2 linked regions of the Homo sapiens genome follow. The protein of the gene in region 1 interacts with the protein of each later gene in a pairwise test. Each region holds a gene or a part of one and is shown on either strand. Other genes may lie near its edges.

Region 1 (3,810 bases):
AAATAGTCTGCTCTGTTCCTGTGTTTGCAGTCCGTTCATATTTGAATATTTATATATAAGATCACATTTAAAAAACAGCTGCAGTCCTGTTAATTATTTCTGTTTTTTGGGGGGATTTGGAATGGAAAGTATTAAAGCATATATTATACATGTTCATGATTGCACATGCCTAATTTACTTAATTGCTTGTTTCTTTACCATTCATTTACATTTTCAAACTTTTTATTAAAACATTCTGAGACAGTGACTGTCATTTCAGTAATGTAATCTTTGATCTGTGTTTTCTGTGAAGTAAATAAAATTTTTGTGATCTTTAGATAGCATGATTTCTATTTTAGAATTTATGTGCAGAAAAAATGAGTGTCTAACTTTTTTCTTGTTTATTTGTAGTACACTTATAAAAATGACTGAAAATAGTGAAATTGAAATTTAGGATTATTGTCATTTTCTTTTTTTGTTTTTAGTATGTGTACAATCAACAGTAGTGTACCTTTTGGGATGTAGAAATTAATGTTAATTGGTCATTATTCTTCTGTGAGAATGCTCAGATTTTCTGACTTTTGGATATTATTCCTGTGTATCAGAAGTGAGAATTTATCTGGTGATCGGTAAAGTGGTCTATTTTTGTGTTTTCAGATATGATTCATCAACTTCCACTGTTGACAGAAAAACAGTACATTGCAACAATTCACTCTCGTCTTCAGGACTCACAGCTTTGGAAACTGCCTGGGCTCCAAGCCACTGTTAGACTTGCCTGGGCGCTGGCATTGAGGGGAATATCCCAGCTACCTGATGTGACAGGTGAATTGATTGTAGGTAATTTTGTTATGAGAAACAGCATGTTAGCACTTAATGACATTTTTGGAAGGAGTATTATCTTTGACATACATAAGCATAAGCATAGGAAGATATCCAGAGTTGTATTAAATGAAACCTTTAGTGTAGTAGTGAAATACAGACTTTTTTCTCCTTGTCTCTCAAAAATATCATATGAAATACTATTTCCCATTCTTGGAGCCACTGACAATGCTCTTTTACCTTCAGGGTATGAGTTTAAAATTTGGAATGACAGTGTCACATTAATTTTTTTTTTTTTTGAGATGGAGTTTTGCTCTTGTTGCCCAGGCTGGAGTGCAATGGCACAGTCTCGGCTCACTGCAACCTCTGCCCCCCGGGTTCAAGCGATTCTCCTGCCTCAGCCTCCCAAGTAGCTGGGATTACAGGCATGCGCCACCACACCTGGCTAATTGTGTATTTTTAGTAGAAATGGGGTTTCTCCATGTTGGTCAGGCTGGTCTTGAACTCCCGACCTCAGGTGATCCGACTGCCTTGGCCTCCCAAAGTGCTGGGATTGCAACACGTGAGCCACCCCGTCCGGCCTTAAATGTTTTTTAAAATTAAAATATACTATTCCTTTTATTTTTATATATTTTACTTCTTGATTTGTTCACAAACTAGTTTTTCACATTGTGTCAAATTAAAAACAGTTATTTTTCCATACAGTGTATTAAAAAGGAGATATTTGGATCAGTCAAGAACAGATGTGGAATCCCGACTTTTCTTTTTTGTGGCCCAGGCTGGAGTGCAGTGGCTCGATCCCGGCTCACTGCAACCTCCACCTACTGGGTTCAAGTGATTCTCCTGCCTCAGCTTCTTAAGTAATTGGACTACAGGCACACGCCACCACACCCGGCTAATCTTTTGTATTTTTAGTAGAAACAGGGTTTCACCATGTTGGCTGGGCTGGTCTCGAACTCCTGAGCTCAGGTGATCCACTTGCTTTGGCCTCCCAGAGTGTTGGGTTTACAGGTGTGAGCCACCGCGCCTGACCAGAATACTGACTTTTAACAACCTGTTAACTCACTGTAGCATATATTATTCTGCTATTTACATTTACATTATTTAATTGTCATATTAGTAGGGGTTTATTCTAACAGAATGAGAACCATACATGGAACACGAAGCCCAAAGAATTGTCTTTTTATGGTAAATCTAGAAAGGCTTTATTCAAGTTTACAATTTATGTCAGTTTTCTAATCCTAAAGTATCAACAGATTCTAGTATCTTATCAATCGTGTAATTCCAGAACATTTTGTTTTCACTAGTGTCATGCTGTTCCCAAGGTGTTTGCAGAAAGCTTTTTTTGTGTTAGGAGTCTTTCTTTGGCCAGTTAATTTCTATCTGTCTGTCATCTATATATCTAAATGCTGATAGCGAATTAGACTTTTACATTCCCGTACAAATTCTGTTTCTCACCTGTACGTACCCTCATCATTTATAAGTCTTATTTCACTACTTTTCTGACATAAAGTTACCCTTTAACCTTTGAAGTGGCTATGTGATAGTTAATATCTTCTTTTTTTATTTTGGAGATGGAGTCTCGTTCTGTTGCCCAGACTGGAATGCAGTGGCATGATCTCAGGTCACTGCAACCTCTGCCTCCTGGGTTCAAGCAATTCTGCCTCAGCCTCCGGAGTACCTGGGACTATAGTCGCACGCCGCCACACCCAGCTAAGTTTTTGTATTTTAGTAGAGACAGGGTTTCACCGGGTTGCCTAGGCTGGTCTCGAACTCCGGAGCTCAGGCAATCTGCCTGCCTTGGCCTCCCAAAGTGCTGGGATTACAGGCGCGAGCCACCATGCCCAGGTGTGATAGTTAATATATTAACTATATAATATAGTTATACATAGATAGTTATTATAATATTATGTAATATGGTCACAATCTTATGCTATAATTGCCCATACCACTGCACTAGTTTTGAAAGGTTTAATAGAATATGCTATAGTTTGCTGTAGAATAATAGTAAAAATAGGTTAGGAATCACAGCCCTAGTTTCAAGTCCCAGATCTTTGGCTACTTAATCTCTTTGATTTTATATGCTCATATCCTTTTATAAGCTTTAATAGTTAGGGGTATTATAATTAGAATTTTTAAACTATAAAAATTTTTCTGTTAATTTGCATTTTAAAAATTGTTAGAAAAAATGACTAGCTTGTGTTATTTTGCAGAAATGGTCACTTCTTGAAATAATCCAGACAAGTTTTAACGAAGATCTCCAATTTGAAAAATTGGTTTCTGTTCTCTTCATAGACTTCTGAAACTTTTATCAAATGTTTTTATTATATTATTCTATAAAAGGCATGAAGCCAGGTGCAGTGCCTCATGCCTATAATCCCAGCATTTTGGGAGGCCAAGGTGGGAGGATTGCTTGAGCCCAGGAGTTCATGACAAACCTGGGCAATGTAGTGATACCTCATCTCTTCAAAAAATTAAAAATTAGCCCAGTGTGGTGACATGCCCTTGGCTGTAGTCCCAGCTACGCAGGAGGCTGAGGCAGGAGGATCACTTGAGCCCAGGAGAGAGGCTGTAGTGAGCTGAAATTGCTCCACTGCACTCCAGCCTGGGTGACAGAGTGAGATCACATCTCAAAAAAAATTAAAAAAACAAGCATCGGCCGGGTGTGGTGACTCACGCCTGTAATCCCAGCACTTTGGGAGGATGAGGCAGGTGGATCGCTTGAGGTCAGGAGTTCAAGACCAGACTGGCGAACGTGGTAAAAGCCCATCTCCACTAAAAACACAAAAAATTAGCCAAGCATGGTGGCGCGTGCCTGTAATCCCAGCTGCTTGGGAGACTGAGGCAGGAGAATTGCTTGAACCTAGTGGGCAGAGGTTGCAGTGAGCTGAGATCATGCCACTGCACTTTAGCCTGGGTGACAGAGTGAAACTCTGTTTCCAAAAAAAAAAAATCAACAAAAAAACCAAGCATTTTTGTAATTTCACTAAGCTTTACAGAATTTTAGCATAC
Region 2 (4,394 bases), on another chromosome or scaffold:
GGTCTAGCCTCCTCACTCCTCCACTCCAGGGCGCTGGGCTCCAGTCCTTTCCCCGCCAAACTCCAGCCCTTCGGAAAGTCTGAACCCTAGGCTCTGTCCAAGGAAAAATGTGGGGCGACAGGAAAGACAAGTTGTTCTCCAGATTCCGTTTCCTGAGGAAGGGGTGGAGAGTTTAGTTCGCTTTGGAAGAAGGCGATGGAGAAACGGAAATAACTGTTTGAAACATACGGTTCCCCTTATTTCTTCCTTTTATTTAAAAACAACCACAAAAATAGACTGGTCTGTCTTCTTTCAAACATGCTCCCAGCCCGTGCGCTCTGTAAAGGACGCTTCTCTGGGTCGGGTTTTGTTGCGTCTTGTGTGCTGGTTTCCCGTGTGATACGTGACTCCTCCAAACTGACCGAGGCTCCGCAGGTTCCCTCTTTCTTTCCCGGAATATTCCCTGTTTTAGCGGGGGCAAGGTCAAGCGGAAAGCGAGGACCGCCAGGGCCTGAAGTAAAGCAGCAGAACCGGCTCCAAGGCCAAAGCCTTGTGGGCCCCTGAGATGGTGACCCAGGAGCCGCCCACCCTGCCAGGCCCAGGCCACAGCTCTCGGGTCGGGGATCGGGTGCCTCTGGTCTCTGGCTTCCTCTTTCCCCTACCCCGCGTCCATTCGGAACCTCCTTTTCCGAGCAGCCATGAAGTGACCGTGACCCCCTCCCTGGCCCACCCTAGAGGCTGGAGATTCCCAGTCAACCCCCACAGGAAACTTGCAACTCCAGCGCCGCGGCCCCCAAGCTTCCAGCCCCGAGGGCCAAGCCCGGGGAAAAGAGGAGGCGGGAGAGCAGAAACTTTAGTCCTGTTTGGTATTCCTTAACTTTTTTTCCCCTTTCTCTGCTCATCAGATCCCCCCAAACCCCCCCCCCCACAAACCTCACCCCACTCCCATCCCCAAGGTAAGAAGTGGGAGTCGGGTCCGGGGATATGGAAAGGGGAGATGAAGAGTGGGGAGAAGTACCTGATTCGTGTCTCGACCTTTTAATTTGAATTTGACTGTTTTGAGCCCCGGGTTGCCTCGCTCTCTCCCTCTCTCCCGCATTTCCCCCCTCTCCGCCCCCTTCTCCCCAGGAGTTACAGGCTGGTTACTGGATAAACAAACCCCACTCTTCCTAGAACCCCCACCCCCACCCCCACCCCCCTCCACCCCTCTACCTCCCCTGCCGCCCGGGGGGCGCTTCCTTTGTTCGCGGGGAAGGGCTCCGGTGCCCCTACCCCGAGGCAGCTGCTAGATGGCGCTGTTACTCCACTCTGCGCGCTCCGCCTGCCGACAACTTGACCCCGCTGACGTCACGGCCGTCTGAATCATCAAGGCCATTTTCAAATCCCATTGGTCTAGCCGTCACATGGTGAGAACCGAATGCGCGGATAATTACGGAGCTGATATTTCCCCCCCTCCCCTTCTTTTTCCTCCCTCCCCTCCAACCGCGCCCCCCCTCCCGGATGGGGAAAAAAAAAGATGTCAGCTCCTCCGCTGTAGTATTGCTCCTTAAAAACCCCTCTCTCTGAAAATGACATGCCCTCGCAATGTAACTCCGAACTCGTACGCGGAGCCCTTGGCTGCGCCCGGCGGAGGAGAGCGCTATAGCCGGAGCGCAGGCATGTATATGCAGTCTGGGAGTGACTTCAATTGCGGGGTGATGAGGGGCTGCGGGCTCGCGCCCTCGCTCTCCAAGAGGGACGAGGGCAGCAGCCCCAGCCTCGCCCTCAACACCTATCCGTCCTACCTCTCGCAGCTGGACTCCTGGGGCGACCCCAAAGCCGCCTATCGCCTGGAACAACCTGTTGGCAGGCCGCTGTCCTCCTGCTCCTACCCACCTAGTGTCAAGGAGGAGAATGTCTGCTGCATGTACAGCGCAGAGAAGCGGGCGAAAAGTGGCCCCGAGGCAGCTCTCTACTCCCACCCCTTGCCGGAGTCCTGCCTTGGGGAGCACGAGGTACCCGTGCCCAGCTACTACCGCGCCAGCCCGAGCTACTCCGCGCTGGACAAGACGCCCCACTGTTCTGGGGCCAACGACTTCGAAGCCCCTTTCGAGCAGCGGGCCAGTCTCAACCCGCGCGCCGAACATCTGGAATCGCCTCAGCTGGGGGGCAAAGTGAGTTTCCCTGAGACCCCCAAGTCCGACAGCCAGACCCCCAGCCCCAATGAAATCAAGACGGAGCAGAGCCTGGCGGGCCCTAAAGGGAGCCCCTCGGAGAGCGAAAAGGAGAGGGCCAAAGCTGCCGACTCCAGCCCAGACACCTCGGATAACGAAGCGAAAGGTAAGGCCGCCTGGGCCGCGGGCGCCACTGGGACGTTCCGGCACTTGGTCTTCGCGGCCGGGGAGGGGGGCAGGGGAGAGGGTTGGGCCCAGGAGGCCCCAGACCATTTCGGGAATGCGACCCTGGCTTTCGACTAGCGTCCGCTGAGCTCCAGGCTGGTGGCGCGTCACTTAGCTGGGGAAGGTAAGCGGCGACGTGGAGGTGTCGGCCCTGCCCCGGCCATGGGTGCTAAGGCGGGGGCGGTGCGCACCGCGGGCCGCCTGCAGGCGCAGTGTGCTGCACCGGACGGGTGGCTGCTCCCAGGCGCGTGCTGGCTGTGGTTTGCTTTCTCAATGCTGGTGTCCTGGGGAGCTGACGTCCCCCAGCTCAGGTCAGGGGCTTGCAAAAAGCCTAAAATGGCGATCTTGGGCCAGGGACTAGGGAAGGCTGGGGAGATGGGGGGAGTTCTCTTTACTGCGTTTTCCCAGTTGAAAATTGTTTCCTGCGAAACGCGATTTGTTGTTTGTGGGTCTGATTTGTGCGTGCGGCTTGGGCTCCTGCGGCTTTTGGCTCGGCCGGGGGCCTTGGGCAGCGAGGCTGGAGCCGGAAGAGGTGGAGGTGAAGGGCTGCCCGCCACGTCCCTCCCTCCTCCAGATGCCTGGCTTGGATGGCGTTGGAACAGGGCATTTGGAATGTTGTAAGTTTTCTGTTTCCTCTTTTAATTTTTTCTTTTCCATTTTTTTCTAGTTAAATTATCTTTTTTCATTGGTTTCCAAAAGCAGCTTACAAATGAGTGGTTGGGAAATTTCTGTGTGCGTGGCAAGAGGTTTTCTCCTGAAAGGGAATGTGGCTTTGGTTGGATTTCACTGTAATTTTGGTTGAGAGAAAGCCCAGCCAGAGTTCAAGCTCAGGGTTCAAGATTCATTTCTGCTGTAGGAGCTGGGGGCCTTCGGGATCTTTCTCTGATACTTGGGGAAAGAATGTGGAGGAAACGGGAGCAGGGGAGGAAAAGCTGAGGGGAACGACTTTTCCTGAAAAGTTGTAGCAAGAGCCTCAGAAAAAGGCCCAACCAACGGGGAAGAATAAACCTGCTCCCCACAACACCGGCTACTGGTGACAGTATATAAGGGGCTCATTGGGTGTAGAGGAAGATGAAATACTGAGAGCGGAGCAGGCTGGGGGCGGCCTGGATCTCCTGGTGCTTTGTATATGGATGCGACGCACACGCATGCCTACGGGCGACCTGTGCCACACTCACGCACATCCATATTGCATGATCCTTGCACACTCACGCATGCCCGCTCACACATGCACAGGCACTCTTTTGGCGGGCAAGGGCAGAGCCTCATCCCCTTGGGTCTGCAAAGGTGGTCTTGGTAAATCATCCCCATAGAGACACTGACTGGAAGATGAGCGCTGGTGTGTTCATGAGGATAAGGGGGAGAGTGAGGCGCCTACAGCCTCAAAGCCTTTCGTTTGGCACGTGTGCAGTGTGAAGGTTTAATCTTATACCCTCTCTACAGACCCTGAGCTTGGTTAGGGAGCAGATTTGGGGCAGGAAAACCTGCATTCTAGCCCCCACCAAAAGCAAAGTCAAGGTTAACAAGTTCACCTCTTAACTCGACCTGCACCCATTCCCATAGGCTCTCCCTTTCCTCTAGCTGTCCCCACAGCAACCTAATCCCTCCCACCCCAAGGAATCCCTCTTACCCTGTACCCTCTCTGTGCCCTTCTTTCCTCTCCTCCTGTTTTGATGTCTCCACCAGGCCAGAGGCAAGAGAGCTTTTGATTAAACTTCCCCATTTATAATTTGTCTTGTCCCCCCACCCCACCAAACCTAACAACTCCAGTAAGAAAATAAACAGGACGTAGTTAGATGTGGAGAGCTTGTAAACAATCTGGCAAGAAGCTGCAGGTGCAGAGACAGGAGAGAAAATTCGGGACATTCAGATTTTTTTAGACTGCAACCTCAAGTTTGCCTTTTTTGTGTGTTTTCTGGTTCCTCTTAGGCCCCCGCCTCACCCCGCCCCCAACAAGATAAGATCCAGGAACCTGGCAGCCTCATTGGAATAGGGAGGAGAGAGAGCTCAGAGCCATCAGCAGAGTCCTTTGCTGGG

Evidence for each region.
Region 2: the proteins of NUP205 (region 1) and HOXC10 interact in a two-hybrid assay, tested with the Homo sapiens proteins (one large-scale study listed by BioGRID and IntAct).

What each region holds. Positions count from the first base shown.
Region 1 is NC_000007.14:135,578,115-135,581,924, forward strand, and holds part of NUP205 (nuclear pore complex protein Nup205), read left to right. Parts: intron 1-636; coding exon 637-801; exon of another isoform or gene 802-812; intron 813-3,810. UniProt on the Homo sapiens protein: Plays a role in the nuclear pore complex (NPC) assembly and/or maintenance. May anchor NUP62 and other nucleoporins, but not NUP153 and TPR, to the NPC.
Region 2 is NC_000012.12:53,983,713-53,988,106, forward strand, and holds the start of HOXC10 (homeobox protein Hox-C10), read left to right. Parts: upstream 1-1,433; 5' UTR 1,434-1,547; coding exon 1,548-2,298; intron 2,299-4,394. UniProt on the Homo sapiens protein: Sequence-specific transcription factor which is part of a developmental regulatory system that provides cells with specific positional identities on the anterior-posterior axis.